Regions from separate parts of the Homo sapiens genome. Here region 2 is linked to region 1. The links come from fine-mapping of genetic effects on gene expression. Tissue or cell type: whole blood. Region 1 holds a variant in brackets; the other region holds the start of a gene. All regions are shown on one strand. Distances are between the middles of the regions.

Region 1 (8,100 bases):
CTCCCCGCCACAGAGACACACCATTACATACACAGACACACACAGACACACAATCACACACAGCCCCTCCCCGCCACAGAGACACACCATTACATACACAGACACACACAGACACACAATCACAGATACCCCCTCCCGGCCATAGAGACACACCGTTACACACACATACACAGAAAGACACACACAGCCCCTCCCCGCCACAGAGACACACCATTACATACACAGACACACACACACACACAATCACACACACACCCCCCGCCACAGAGACACACCGTTACATACACAGACATACACACACACACAGACATACACCAGACACGCAAAGACACACAGACACAGATACACAGATACAAAGACACAGACATATAGACACACAGACATGCACAGAGACACATGGAGACACATGCAAAAATGCACAGAGAAAGACATACAGAAGTGTACACACAGACACATAGACCACACAGACACACAGACATGCATGCAAACACACAGACATGCAGACATGCACACAAACACAGACTCACGCACACAGACTTAGGCAGCCCAAATTCAGCGCCTGGGGCATAAGTTCCTGGAGGGGTGGCCACCTTCAGCCCCCACGGTAAGGTCCTGAGGAACCTTCCCCTTAGACAAGGGATCATGGAGGAGGTCTCTTCCGGAGCCTGGAGGGAGGCCTCAAGTGGTCCTTCCACCTCGGCATCCCAAAGTGCTAGGATTATAAGCATGAGCCACTGCACCTGGCCCCAACATCATTTATTGAACAGACTGTCGTTTCCACATTGTGTTTCTTGGCATTTCTGTCAAAAATCAGTTGACCGTAAATGCATGGATTCACTTCCGGGCTCTCTATTCTGTTTCATTGGTCTGTTTGTTTTTATGCCAATACCATGATGTTTTGATTATTATAGCTTTATAGTATATCTTGAAGTTAGGTAGTGTATTGTCTCCAGCTTTGTTCTTTTTGCTTAAGATTGCTTTGGCTATTTAGGGGTCTTTGTGGCCATTACTGACAGTTAAAATGGCCCTGGCTCATGTCTCCTGGGCCTCTACAGTACTTTAGGTGGGGAAGTACTGTGGCCCACATGTCCCAACAGGCTGTGTGTGGCACCTGACAGTGCTTTGTGCCACTGTGGAGCAGGTGTTACTCCCTCATACGAATTTTAGGATTATTTTATTTATTTCAGTGAAAAATGTCAATGAAATTTTGATAGGGATTGCATTGAATCTGTAGATTGTTTGGGGTTGTATGGACATTTTAACAATATTAATTCTTCCAATTCATGAACATGGGATGTCTTTTTTTTGGCACCTGATCTCAGATATGGGACAGCTTTCTAATTATTTGTATCTTCAATTTCTTTCACAAATGTTTTATAGTTTTCAGCATACAGATCTTTCACTTCCTTGGTTGGATTTATTTGCAAGTATTTTTTGTAGCTATTGTAAATGACATTGTTTTCTTGATTTCTTTGTTAGGGTATAGAAATGCTACAGATTGTTGTATGTTAATTTTATATCCTGCAACTTTACTGATTTCATTTATTCTAACATCTTATTGGTGGAATCTTTAGGGTTTTCTATAAGATCATGTCATCTGTAAACAGGGACAATTTAAGTTCTTCCTTTCCAATTTGGATACCTTTTATTTCTTCCTCTTGCCTAATTATTTTGGCTGAGGGCCAACTTGTTGGGTTTGTTGTTGTTGGTTTTTGTCTGTGTCTTTTGGTGTTTCGTGTTGCTGGCTTTTCCAGCACACAGTCACAGATATATGAGGCAGAAAGAAAACCCAGGGAACTCCTGTCATGTCATTCCTCAGGTCCCAAGGTCCCTACATGGTCTGCCTTCTTCTCTCCACCTTTTAGTGTTTGATATACATACGTTTATGTATGTAGTTATATATGTATGTGTAATACCCAGGGAAATATACAGAGATTTTAACTGTCCTTAGTGTAGGGCGTGGGGACAGGTGCATCTATTCTACCTTGCTTGGAAGTGGAAAAATCTTCAAGAAATCAATTTATCACCAACTGGCATGACAGAACTCCTGGTTTAGTGTCTAGCTGTCTCCACTAAAATCAATCACCATGCCATCAGGCACTCTCTTCCCTCTGGTGTGTACTGGTACCTGAAACAGCGTCCAGCACCCTGAGAGCACAGAACGCAGCTTCTTATGTGCCCCACCCAATAATCCCAAATCGAGCACAGACCTGGGAGCTGAAGAGACAAGCTGGAGGTCAGGCAGTTCTATTACTTAAGCCTGGTTCTTCCTGACTCCAAAAGCCAGGCGCCACCCCATGCTCCTTCCCAGCAGAAGCTGGTTTTCACCGGGTCAGGAGGACAGGATGGCTATTCCTGACCGTTGTACAGCAGTGCCACATCTCCTAGTTTCCAGAACATTTAATGTGTTGCTGTGGAGGCCTGGCAGCTCTGAAGTAGCCCCTTGCGCCCAGGACAAACCGGGCCTGGAGGGGTGGGGTGGGGTAAGCTGAAGCTTCCAGTATCCCACGTGGGCATTCTGTTGCTGAGGGCAACCGCCCCTCCCTGCAAGGGAGGGGAAGGAGCAGGCAGGCACACCCTTCCTCCCTCCACATTTCACTGGAGTTGACCTGTGTCCTACTGTGGTTGCACCTGGACCAGCCCAGAGGGACTGGAGTGACTCTTCCCGCAGGTAGGGCACAGCCAGCCTGGGCACAGGGCCTCACTGCAATCCCTGCGCCCCGCCTCCCTGGGGGATTTCCAGGGGTTGTCCTGCTGCTTGGTGAGCTGGGGGTGTGGGGGACCACAGATGAGGCAGGCGCCTAAATTGCTTGGGCGGAGTCCGGCTGCTCTCTCCCTCCAGGCCCTTTCCTGTGTCCTCGGGCCCCTCGGGTCCCTGCACCAGGCCAGCAGCAATCGGGTGTCAGAGGTTCAAGTCCAGGCTGACTCCTGGGACGCACCGACTTTGCCCAGGAGGGCTGGGGAGAGGGCAGCCCCAAAGTGTCATCTTTGATTATTCTTTGTCCCCAAAGCCAGCCTTGGGCATGTGCCCAGCACAGGGAGAGCTGCTGCCTCTGTGGGCTTGAGTCATTTTTGCTTCCTTGCCCCTCTCTGCTCTGTTTGGTTTAAAAAACAAAAACCAACACCCATGGGTGAGGCGAGGCGAGGCGAGGCTTGCCTTGATCCACCC[G/A]CTTCCTCCCCTGCAGCCTCGGGCCCCATCCTCCCGCGTGGCCGCACTAGGGGTGCTGGGGGCGGAGTGGGGACCAGACCTGAGTGGGTTCTGGGTTCAGCTTCGCAGCAGGAGCAGCTGGGGCATCATCAGTTGGGCAGGTGACCCAGGATCTGAGCAGGAATCTTCCAGGTGGAGGTGGGGCCGCCCCTCTGCTTGCCACAGCTGCCTTCTGCTCTGGGGGCAGCACTGGCTGAGAATCCAGTGAAGTAAGGCCTTTGAAATGGTTTTGATTGTAAAAGTAATGTTTATGTTTAGCCATTCCTTTTTTTATTTTTTATTTTTTGAGACGGGTCTCCCTCTGTCACCCAGGCTGGAGTGCAGTCGTGAAATGTGGGCTCACTGCAACCTCCACCTCCCAGGTTCAAGTGATTCTCCTGCCTCAGCCTCCTGAGTAGTTGGGATTACAAGTGCCTGCCACCACACCTGACTAAGTTTTGTATTTTTTAGTAGAGATGGAGTTTCACCATGTTGGCCAGGCTGGTCTCAAACTCATATCCTCAAGTGATCCACCCTCCTCGTCCTCCCAAAGTGCTGGGATTTTGCCATGAGCCACCACGCTCAGCCATGTTTAGCCATTTTTAAAAGGTGTGAACAGATAATTAAGTCTATTAGCAACATTAGAAAATTTAAGTTAAAATTTAAATGACTCTAGCAAGAATTAGCCTTTAGGTGCCCTGGGTCCCCCTCCTCACCGCCCCCCACCCCGCCGCCTTCTGAGAAGCGTTTTGTAATTTTTCTTATTTATAAAATGGGTTTGATTCAAAACTGACTTTTCCTCTTCACAGTCTCACAGGTCCTTCCCCAGGTCCAAGAGGCTCTTCTGTGTCCTGATGACAAGTAGCTGCCTAGCCGTGGTGGCACCTCCTATCACATGTTAAGGGACCCCTCCCCAGGGCCACACCTGGCAGAAGGTGGCTTATGATGTTCGCAGCTTGAAAGTAGTGTAAACCAAAGATAAAATTCTAAGCCCACTCCCCCAGCCATCGGAATGGACCCCTCCTCTTGGCCAGGGCACTCCAAAGTTAACCTGAAAAACCGGTTCAGGCTGTGAAGAGAAGGTGGAGTGGACATGCCTCATTTATGTCCTCCTCCCTTTTGGAATTCAGCAAAGCTGACCAGCATGAACATTAACACAGACCTTAAGTCTGATTAGTGGCATTTACAATCTATACTCTCTGAAGCGTGCTACCTGGAGTCTTCCTTTGCATGATAAAACTTTGGTCTCCACAACCCCTTATCATAACCTAGACACTCCTTTCTAGTGATAATAACTCTTTCAACCAATTGCCAATAAAAAAATTTTGAATCTACCTATAACCTGGAACCTCCCCGCTCCACCTTCGAGTTGTCCTACCTTTCTGGACAGAAGCAATGTGGATCTTGCATGTATTTGATTGATGTCTCATGTCTCCCTAAAATGTATACAATTAGGCTGTGCCCAGATCACCCTGGGCACATGTTCTCAGGCCCTCCTGAGGTCTCTGTCTCGGGCCATTGGTCACTCAGATTCGGCTCAGAATAAATCTCTTCAAATATTTTTCAGAGTTTGACTCTTTTTGTCGACAATAAGCTCATCAGATTAAAGCTGTTGGAACTTTAAATTACTTCGAGCCTTGAAAGAATGTGATTCTGACACCCTAGTCAAGCAGCAAGTCGCTGTGAACTTTGCTTCTCCAATTATAGATTAACGCTCTTCCTTTCTTGATTTGTAAAATGTTATGAAAGACTAAATGGCACCAGATGTAAGACCCCTTCCCTTTCTTAGTTACTGACCTTTTGTTACGAATTAACTTCTTTCTTTTCTTGCACCCAACTCAGACCAGATGGTACAAAAGACCCCATGCCTATCAAATTCCATAAGACAGTATGTTAAATATACTTTTCCCGAAGGGAACAGGATATAACCAAACAAATTGCTGCAACTCATAAGCCAATCTTATGTGGAAAATGTAATCATGCTAAACCTCCTTGTATTTTCCCATTTAAGTGAAGCCCTAATCCCTCCACCTCAGAGCACTGAGCCCATTCCTTTAGAGTCTGTGTTTTTTGAGTGGTGGTCGTCAAACTTAGAGTTCGAATAAACTCTATAACATTGGATTTTGAACCTTTCAATTATTTCAGGTGGCAGAAGAAACACACAGACCCCATCTCTTCCTTTGGAGTTCTGTACTGCTCATTTCAAAGGGATTTCATCCTGCCCTCTGTAACCACCCAAGGGGTTCCTCCTGCTCCCTTTCTAAATAAAGACCATGCATTCCAGTAAAGAAAGAGTTTAATAGACATGAGGCCAACCACATGGTAGAGAGAGTTTGTACTCAAATCATCTCATCAAAGGCTCATAGCTAGGGGTTTCTCAAGGCAGTTTGGGGGGTCAGGGGTGGCCAAGTAACAGGTACTGATTGGCTGGGGCAGACATGAACTCATGGAGGGTCAAAGCTGTCCTCCTGCAGGCTAAATCGCTTCTTAGGGGGGTGTCACAGGAGTGAGGTTGGGGGTTCCAGGTAGAGCCATGGGTATCAGACCTGCAAAAAACCTGAAAAGATATCTCAAAAGACCAATCTACAGTTGGGGAAATTGTGTATTTTGCTAGAGAGGTCTACACCTTAGCTTCTCCCTCTCGCCTCATAGCTTTTCATTAGGTTTACACAGGCAGAAGAGTTTTGGGGGAGGCCTGCTGTTATTTAAACTATAAATTAAATGTCTCCCAAGGTTAGCTCAGCCCAAAAGCCCAGGAATCATTAAGGGAAAGGAAAGATGAGGGGCGGGTTAGCTCAGCTCACTCTTACAATTTTTCTAATTGATAGAGTTTTTGCAAAGGCGGTTTCACTTTCAGCGTGGTCGTTCTCCTAACCTCTCCTGCTTCCCCAGGTCCTCACCCTAAACCAGCACCCATCCTGCACTCCCAGGGTGAACCCTCCCTTCCCTCCTGCTCACCTGGGCCCAACCCAGTTTCCCCCCAGGAGCTGCGGAAGGGCCCAGTGGTGCCACCTTGGCCTCCAGGCATCACTCTCCAACTTCTTCCCTCCTCCCTCCACAGGACCCTTGCCTCAAATGTCAGTCCCGCTGCTCTCTGCTGCACTCAGCCTCTTCCTGGCAAGTGTGCCCCTCCCCTCTTGAAGCCATCACCAGCCTCTCGTGCCCACCCCCATCTAGGCCCCCCACTCCTCTCCAGTCCCGGTGTCTTGGAAGAGCCTCTGGATCACAGGGGCTGGGAAATTCGACTTGTCATCCCCACCAAGCAAACACATGCTTCCATCCAGGGCCCCTCAGTGGGTGAAGGCTGAGCCCCAGTAAAGGATAGATCATCACTGTCAGAGGCGAGTGAACTAGAGCGACTCCATGTTGAATAGGGACTGGGTAAAATGAGGCTGAACCTTCTGCACTGCATTCTCAGGGGGTTAGGCATTCTTAGTCACAGGATAAGATAGGAGGTTGGCAGGATTAGTATCACAAGATACAAGTCACCAAGACCCTGCTGATCAAATGGGATGCAGTAAAGAAGCCAGCCAAAACCCACCAAAACCAAGATGGCGACAAAAGGAACCTCCAGTTGTCCTCACTGCTCATTATGCGCTAATTATAATACATTAGCTGCTAAAAGACACTCCCACCTGTGCCACAACAGTTTACAAATGCCATGGCAACGTCCAGAAGTTACCCCATATGGTCTAAAAAGGAGAGGGACCCTCAGTTCAGAAAAATCCCCTCCCCTTTCTTGGAAAACTCACAAACAATCCACCTGTTGTTGAGCCTATAATCCAGAAATCAGTATAAGTATACTCAGCTGAGATCCAAGAACCCTGTCTTGGGGTTTGGACTGGGACTCCTTTCTGGTAACAATACTAGGGTATACGGAGCCCCCACATCCCCGGGCAAGTGGTGCAGAAGCCGGAGCCATCAGCAGCCGCCCCTGGCAGGCTCCTGTGTGGACTCCTTGCTGCAGGGCATTTGGTTTACCAGGCGTGAGAGACCCACACGTGAAGCGCTAGCCCAGCCCCATCACCGCAGCACAGCCTCACCACTGCAGCCCAGAAAAACCACTGCAGCCCAGACACACGACTGCAGCTGAGGCCCATCACTGCAGCCCAGACACACCACTGCACCCACTGCAGCTCAGCCCACCACTGCACCCCAGCCCCACCACTGTAGCTCAGCCCGACCACTGCAGCCCAGCCCACCATTGCAGCCCAGACACACCACTGCAGCCCAGCCCACCACTGCAGCCCAGCCCCACCATTGCAGCCCAGGCCCTGCAGTTGTCCCTACTAGGTCTGAGTGGAGGAATCAGAGAGAAAACTCTGGAAAGTGCTAGACACAGGGGAGGCCCTCAAGGAATGGTGGCTGCCACTGGGAACTCTGTTTCTGTGGTGCTTACTGGACAGATAGGCTCCTTTGCAGATTTTTTTATTCCAAAACTAAGCTCCCATCACCCAGTCCTGTCCTCCCTGCTGGCAGAGCTTGTCCCTGGATCCAAGCTGTCTCCTCTGCACCAAATCCGGTGGCCTCAAGTCCCAGCTCTGCTTTGCACAGGGGCTTTTCGAAGCCCTGTCTCCCCTGCTGTGAGATGGGGGTCACCCAGCTGCCCCCCAGGGGGTGGTGTTGCTGACGGAGCAGGTGAAGACAATGCCAAGAGCTGCGCGTGGTCTGGCTTTCCCAGGCTGGATGTGCCCCTCTGATCCTCAGTCTCCCCACATGGACAATGGCTGATGCCGACCACCCACACTAGGTTTGCCCCAGAGTCAAAGTGAGCTCCTTGAGGACAGGGAACTGACCCCCACACAGGGCCCCCCAGGATCTGCTTGAGGAGGCACCAGGCAGTTCTCCCAGAAGGCAGGGCGTGTCTTCAGAGCTCTCTGGGTTGAGTGGGCCTAGGCCATCGCTGCCTCTGC
Region 2 (8,100 bases), 120 kb before region 1:
CCATCCTCTCTGGGCCTGGCTCCCTTTTGGTAAAACTGGTGACCCAGCACTGGGTAGCACGGTGTCCCCCAGTGAGGTGGCCTGAATTCAAATCCTCTTGGAAATTGTGTGACCTTGCCTAGTCTGGCGCTGCATTGAGCCTCACTGTCTTTGGCTATAAACAGGGTCATTGTTTCTGCTTTACAGGGTTGACGGGAGATGAAGTGAGTCAGTGCCTGGCATACAGCACGTGATGCGTAAATGGTGGGAGGTGGTGGTGTTGGAGTAAAAATTAGCATTGCTTCCCCATCAAGGTGACAGAGCTTCACGCACCCCCACATCTACCCCAACCAGATTAGTCTCCGCAAGTGTCAGCAGCGAGGAATCCAGCTGCCGCATCAGGAAGCTTCTCCAACATGGGAAGAGCTTGTATTGGGGAAAATCACAGTCACAGAACCACCCGGCATGGGATGCACAGGCTTGGCCTCTTACCTGCTTTATCACATGCTTGACTTTGGTTTCCATTTCCTCCACCACCAGGTTCACCCCCAAGGCCCCAGGATTCAGCTGGTACAAAACCTATCAGCAAGGAAGAGAGAAGCTTTCAGGAAATGCACACAACTTTTCCCTTTCCAAAAGCCCAGCTCCAACTCCTTTTCTGGCCCTGCTAACTCCCCTGTCAGGCTGGCAGAGCAAGTGGCTCCACCCCATCTTGCAATAGAGGAAATGGCCCAAGGAGGGCAAGAAGCCTTTCAATGGCAGAACTCTGATCTCACCTATTTGGGGCCGATTCTGGAGCTCTTCTACAACCCTGTATCCCTCCCCCAACCTGCAATGAGGACCAGCTGGGCACTCAAGTGCAAGAACCTCCCAGAGAAAAAGGGCTTATTCACTCTCTATAGACCTCTGTGACCTCAACTTCCAGCATCCACCTCCCAACTGGTTTCCAACAAGAAAGTAACCAATCTTGTGACTGGTACAATCAGGAAGCCATTGTGTGCCTGGCATGGTGCCAAGCACTTCACAGCCACCCTTTGCAGTTGACACCATTGCTACCTCTGTGTTTACATTGGGGAAAACTGAGGCACAAGGAGCTAGGTCCTTGCCTGAGGCTATGTCACTAGAAAGCAGGACACTGCCTGGGGTAACTCTGGGGGTCTGATCTTAGAGCCTGTGATTTGAGCCAAATCTGGAGAGATGGCCACCAAGCCAGAACTCTGTGCAGAGACCAAGTGCTATGGGGCAGGGGGCTGGGCCGGGGATTGCTGGAGGCTGACATTCATCAGAGGATTGGGGGAGGGAGGGCAGGACCCAGAGGAGGAGATATGAGGATGGAAGCCTGAGCCTAGGGACTCTCGGAGCCCATAAAAGTCTTAGGAGTCTGTAATCCAGCCTTGTGAGCAGCCTGCTCATGACACTGGATATTCTAAGCCAGGGGTCCCCAACCTAGTCCGTGGCCTGTTAGGAACCAGGCTGCACAGCAGGAGGTGAGCAGCAGGCAGTGGAGCAAAGCTTCATCTGTATTTACAGCCGCTCCCCATGGCTCGCATTACCACCCAAGCTCCACCTCCTGTCAGCTCAGCAGCAGCATTAGATTCTCATGGGAGTGTGAACCCTATTGTGAACAGTGCATGTGAGGGATCCAGGTTGCATGCTCCTTATGAGAAACAAATGCCTGATGATCCGTCACTGTCTCCCATCATCCCGAGAGGATGGTCTAGTTGCAAGAAAACAAGCTCAGGGCTCCCACTGATTCTACATTATGGTGAGTTGTGTAATTATTTCATTATGTATTACAACATAATAATAGAAATGAACTGCACACTAAGTGTAATGTGCTTGAATCATCCCAAAACCATCCTCCCGCCTCCATCTGTGGAAAAATTGTCTTCCACAAAACTGGTCCCTTGTGCCAAAAAGGTTGGGGACTGCTATTTTTTTTTTTCTTTCTGAGACAGAGTTTTGCTCTTGTTGCCCAGGCTGGAGTCCAATGGCGCTATCTTGGCTCACCACAACCTCTGCCTCCTGGGTTCAAGCGATTCTCCAGCCTCAGCCTCCCGAGTAGCTGTGATTACAGGCATGCGCCACCACACCTGGCTAATTTTGTATTTTTAGTAGAGACAGTTTCTCCATGTTGGTCAGGCTGGTCTTGAACTCCCGATCTCAGGTGATCCGCCCGCCTTGGCCTCCCAAAGTGTTGGGGATTACAGGCGTGAGCCACCGAGCCCGGCCAGGGACTGCTGTTCTAAGCCACAGCGGGCTGAGGGCAGAGCTGGTGTGAGAGCGTTCAAGCTTAGGCAGCAAATTAAACAGTAAAATGGAGCCGTATCTCGAATCAAGTCTATTTTTTTTTCCAAAAGCAGGTATATTCCTGAAACGTCTATTTTTTTTTAATCTGAAAAACAACTTTACTTTAAAAATTATCTGGCCACCAGAAGCTCATCTGCTTCACCTCTGGCAACGCCCTATAGTCCTCTCACACAAAGACAATTCTTCCAAAGTGACAAAAATCTAACCCGCAAACTGTTTCCAAGCGAATGCATTTTTCACAAATGCTGAATCTAACATTTAATAAAGTGTATATATCATGTATAGAAGCATTTAATTAAACATTTACTTTTATTTTGCAGCTTTCCTTTTGTGTTTTGTGAATTTTTTAGGTCTCAAACATTTTCACAGACCCACGCTGCAGGGGTGTTTTTAGGGGACTGGGGGCTCCCAATTATGTACTCGGGATGTTCCCGGGGGTCCTGCCTCGGTGGACCCAAGCGCACAGACCCCAGGCACGAAGGATAGAGGAGCTGCCCCACGCCCTCAAATACTCAGCCAGGGCTGGAGAATCCTTAGTCAATTCACAAAGGGGGAAACTGAGTGGCAAAGGGCACCCAGGAGGTCACCGTTGGAGGCCCCCCGGGTTCAACCTAGGAGCTGCAGGCCGACACTGGCCAGGGCGCGGGCCCCTCGCCGCCCTCGGTCGGAACCGCCGGCCGTAGCTCCAGGGTTGCGACCGTTACCCCACGGAGCTCCCGCCTCCCCGCAGGGAACACTCGGCACCTGGTACTTCTCCATGGGCTCTCCGGGGGACCCTGGGCCTCGCTCCCCCTGCGTGGGGCGCCTGCGATTGGACCCTGGCCCAAGCATGATCAGTAGCGACCGCGTACGGGCGAGCGTCCACCCCTGGCCCCACCCCGCGTGGGTCAGTGGGACCCGCGGGATCCTCCCCGCCCGAACGGCGCCCTCGAGGCACTCAGGCGTCCCTCCCGCGCGCTGGCCCCAGACCCCCAGGTCCCCGCCCCCTTAAAAGGGACGCGTTCCGCCGGGCCGGGAGGGACCGCAGGGCCTGCGCGCGGCGGGCGGGGCCTCCAGCGTGAGAGGCGTGGCGTCGAGCGCGGCGGGCGTGGCTTCGAGCGGATGGGTCGGGAGGCTGGGGATGGCGCGTGGCCCCTTTAAGACGCACCGGGGCGGGCCCGGGCGGCGCGCGGCCCCTTTAAGGCTTGGCCTACGTGGCAGCCGCTGGAGCCGCAGCCGACGCGGAGCGAGGCCGGCCGCCGGGCACTTCCTGTGGAGGCCGCAGCGGGTGCGGGCGCCGACGGGCGAGAGCCAGCGAGCGAGCGAGCGAGCCGAGCCGAGCCTCCCGCCGTCGCCATGGGCCAGAACGACCTGATGGGCACGGCCGAGGACTTCGCCGACCAGGTGCGGCCTGCGGGCTCCTCCCCCGGCCCCGGTCCCGACCCAGGCCGCCCGGGCCGCTCCGGAGTCGGCCTCCCAGCGCAGGGCGCCAGGCCCGGGCCGCCCCCTGACTCCTTGTTCCCACAGGGGGACCCCCCCGCCCGGGCCCTCTGTCCCGGCTGGACAGCCCCAAACCCGGCCTCCGGGCCCAGTCTCCCCTGCCCGCTGGGCCGCTCCCGGAGCCCGGGCCTCGGCGCCCTGCCTGGCTAGCCGCCCCCACCCTCCAGCCAGCCCGGGGCGCGGGCTGTGGGGGTTTCTTCCCGGGCCGGCGGCGCGAGTCCTGGCGTTGGGTCGGGTCTGAGGCTCGCGGGGAGCGCCTCGGCGTTTGGAGCTGCTGGGGGGTCCCCGCACGTTTTTCCTCTCACTGGGGCTCCCGGAGGCGGGCTGGGAGCTCGGGGACGAACGGGGGCCGGGGGTCCTCCCAGAGGAAAGGGGGCGCGCTGGCGTGCGCCCCAGCTACAGGAAGCCACAGCACCTTTTCCTTTTCTCTTTCCCAGATGTGCTGGACTCTTGGGGTCCCTTTGACCCTGTCTGCGTCTCCCTCCCCGTTTGGACTCTGCCCTGGGCTGGATTGAGTGGGGACCTGTACACAGCCTGGGAGGAGGGGAAGCCTATCTCCCTGATAGTCTCCTTCCAGAAGTGTCCAGGTGGCATTCTGAGCAACAGGGAAGCCTTTGAAACAGGCGGTTGGGTAACTGTTGAGAGCATTCGGGAACTGGGTGGACAGGATCCGATCCTACAAAGTGAAGGGACACAACTCCCTTCCCTCTTTCTTGATTAAGCTTGACAGAACAAAAAAACAAAAACAAAAGGTGGTGGTGGTTACGCAGATTTATGCCTTTTACTTCTAAAAGAATCCCGTTATGTCGACAAATTAACAGCCTTATCCCCGCAGGGAGAGCCTTGTGTGGCCCACTTGCCGTTTTTTCCTCGGTTTACTTAATGTGTTCGTGTGGCTTTGCTAGAGTTTTAAGTAGTGATGGTTAAATTTTTAAATTTTTCTGGAGGTGGTAGTGAGTCATCAAACTCTGAGGCCTAGACTTATCGGAAGGCTTGTATATGTGTGGTTTAAAAAAAAAAGAAAAGAGTAAGTGACCGTTTTCTGATCAGCTATTGAACTCTTCCGTTCCTCCTGGGGGGTGATCTCTTTCTAGTGTGACCTCACCATCGGTTCTCATTGCAACACTTTCTGTGAGCCAATATTTTAAATTTGGAGGGAAAAAGTAATCAACTTGACGAAGCATTTTTTCCCTAAGATTCTGATTTTGTGCTTAAAGACACAATTTTATTTGTTTATTTATTTTTATTTATTTATTTTTTCTTTGAGATGGTGTTTTGACCTTGTTGCCCAGGCTGGAGTGCAATGGTGTGATCTCAGCACACCACAACCTCCAACTCCTGGGTTCAAGCGATTCTCCTGCCTCAGCCTCCCGAGTAGCTGGGATTACAGGCATGCACCGTCACACCCAGCCAATTTTGTATTTTTTTTTTTTTTAGTAGAAACAGGGTTTCTCCATGTTGGTCAGGCTGGTCTCGAACTCCCGACCTCAGGTGGTCTGCCCACCTCAGCCTCCCAAAGTGCTGGGATTACAGGCGTGAGCCACGGCACCCAGCCTTTAAAGACACAATTTTAAAAACAATTCATATCAAAAGCTCTCAAGAACCAGGTAGACCTTTTAGGTTTGTCAGTTTTCATTGACATAATTTATAGTGACCCATTTATATTTCTCCAAGTCGCAGCTCCCTAAGAAGATGGCTCCTCATAGCTGAGGGAAGGATGAGAGCTACATACACTCGCTCTTTGTCCTGGAAAACCTGGATTTGCAAGTGAATTTCATAACCAAATCTAGATCAAATGTCTCCAGTCAAGCTGCTGCCCACTAGCAAATGACAGACTCCCCTATTGACAAAAAAAAGTTCCCAGTGTCTTCACATACTGTTTTCTTCTTCTTTTTTTTTTTTTTTTTTTTTTTTTTGAGACAGAATTTCGCTCAGGCTGGAGTGTAATGGTGCGATCTCGGCTCACTGCAACCCCCGCCTCCCGGATTCAAGCAATTCTCCTGCCTCAGCCCGAAGTAGCTGGGATTACAGGCGCCTGCCACCACGCCCAGCTAATTTTTTTGTATTTTTAGTTGAGACGGGGTTTCCCCATGTTGGCCAGGCTGGTTTCGAACTCCCGACCTCAGGTGGTCCGCCTGCCTTAGCCTCCCAAAGTGCTGGGATTACAGGCGTGAGCCACCCTGCCCTGCCTTTTCTTCATGTTTTGTTATTATGTTTTTTTTGGAGACAGAGTCTTACTTTGTCACCCAGGCTGGAGTGCAGTGGCGCAATCTCATCTCACTGCAACCTCCGCCTCCCGGGTTCAAGCTATTCTCCTGCCTCAGCCTCCTCAGTAGCTGAGATGACAGGCCCACGCCACCACGCCCCGCTAATTTTTGTGTTTTTAGTAGAGACAGCATTTTGCCATGTTGTCATGTTGTCCAGGCTGGTCTCAAACACCTGACCTTAGGTGATCCGCCTTGGCCTCCTAAAGTTCTGGGATTACATGCCTGAGCCACCGCGCCCAGCCTTCATCATGTATTCTGTTATGTTTTAAATGAAAGAAGCAGTAGCTTGGAACTGGAAAGGCTCTTGAGGGGGCACAGAGTCGACCTCTCCCAGGTTACTGAGGGGAGGCCAAACCTGCTCAGGCTCCTAGACTTGCCTGTGACCAAGACCAAGAAAAGCCGGGTCTTGGTCCCCAGCGCCCCCAGCCCCTGGTGTTGCTCTTCTGGCACAAGTCAAGGGAAGAGCACTAGCGGGTGAAGGGGCTGCTCACATACAAAACCCAAGTGGGTTAGGACCATATCTGTAAGGCACCATATCTGTAAGGCAGCGCAGGCTGCCGCCGTCAGATGATCTCCTTAAGAGTCCGTCTAGGTGGTGGCAGAGCATGGCTGTGGGAGCTTCCATGCCCTTTTGTGGGCAGCTTGGGAGGGCAGCTACTTGTACTCGCCCAAACCCCAATCAGACAGATGCAGGCAAGTAAACAGGGTTCGAAGTCAAAATATGGCTTCTTGTGGACAGAATCTGACCAAGCCCAGGTGGGGCTTTGTTTCTCTTTATTCACATAGTACTTAAAGCTGCCAGACCAGGCTTTTACATGAAAATGACCTAATTTGAAGCCGATAGAGGATTACCATGGAAGTCACTGATCAGATAAAGTGACACATCCATTTTTTCACATCTTCAGAAAACAAGAGCAAAACTGAAGTGACAAGATTTGACCAGAAAGTGTGGGCTGCTGAAAGCAAGACCTAAGTAAGCTTAGTTTCCCAGGCCCAGTGTCTTCCAGTATTATGACAATGACATTAAGTCTTTCACTGGGCCGGGTCCATGATAGACATTCCTTTTGTGAACTTCTTGACTGTAGGAGGTTGGCCAGAGCGTCACCATCTTCAGATGGGCAGAGGGAGGTTGGCTGGCCGCACTGGCTTGTGGTGGCCTGGAGACTGAGTCCGCATCCTGTTACCCCAAAGGCTGGGTTCCTCACTGCTTGGTTGACTGATCTTTCCTTCTGGCCTGCAGAGGCTGGTCCACGGGGACGAGCAGTCTGGTTAGTTTCTGCTGGCAGGCTCCCCACAGTTGCATCTCTTGTCTCTCTGCCTCTGGCATCAAGCTGCTTGCTCTGGCAGCCAGGGACAGTGTCCTCTTGCTCCCAGGAGCCATGCTCTGTAGAAACTGCTGAGACGTGCTCTATGCAGGAGCTTGGCATTTGGAAGCCATGGGAAGGGTCCAGAAACTAATGAACTCAGCAATCCAAACTAATGTCCATGCCTGCAGCTGCTCCTCATTGCCTATTAGACACTCTGTAAAATGTAGCTTCTAAGCAGTTTATACCCATAAACAGCAATATTAGCACTTAATGGGTTCTGCCTGGTGGCTCATCACCAAGGTGACAGAAAAGCTGCATGGGGCCTTCCTCTCCAGTGTGACCTTTGGTGTTTTTAACCTGTCCTCAAGAGTGGCAGAGCTAGTCCTGGGCCCTAGGAGCTGGCCTCGGCCCTAGTTGAAGTGCTGGGGAAGCAAGGATAGGCCTGAGGACCCCTGAACTTGCAGGTGGCACAGGCACTGTGAGGGTCCCGATGAACACCATGCTGGTGACTGGTGTGGCAAAGTCCTGGTGACAGTGGCAGGCTCTGTCATACCCTGCCCTATATCATGAAGGAGTGGGGAGAGAAGGCAAAGAGGAGCTGACTCACTTTTCTTTGTGTGATGATCTTAACGGGAGGTTAAAACTCACTCTTCAGGGGAGTGCGGGCGAGGAGCAGAGGAGGTTGTGGTTAGCGGGGCTCCTCCCAGAACATGGGGCCCAGTCGTTCTCAGTTACGTCTTTCCTATAGTTGGGATTTT

The links. PIP is the estimated chance that this variant, and not a neighbour inherited with it, causes the effect.
Region 2: it holds the start of SURF4, and the variant in region 1 is fine-mapped to the expression of SURF4 in whole blood (TOPMed, PIP 0.99).

The regions. Positions count from the first base shown.
Region 1 is chr9:133,247,049-133,255,148 of GRCh38, reverse strand. It overlaps the pseudogene ABO. Among named protein-coding and RNA genes, the nearest start is that of OBP2B, 42 kb to the right of the region's middle. RefSeq lists a silencer at 628-1,415, a cis regulatory region at 2,548-2,593 and enhancers at 2,492-2,710, 1,735-3,315. The variant G/A (reference allele first, on the strand shown) is at 3,170.
Region 2 is chr9:133,371,494-133,379,593 of GRCh38, reverse strand. It overlaps SURF4 (surfeit 4), which reads left to right and starts at 3,534. Exons shown (of 6, transcript NM_033161.4): 1 at 3,534-3,672. The coding sequence starts at 3,625. STKLD1 (serine/threonine kinase like domain containing 1) reads right to left here and starts at 3,228. Exons shown (of 18, transcript NM_153710.5): 1 at 3,034-3,228; 2 at 472-558. The coding sequence starts at 3,120. RefSeq lists silencers at 2,990-3,489, 3,580-3,819, 3,830-4,109.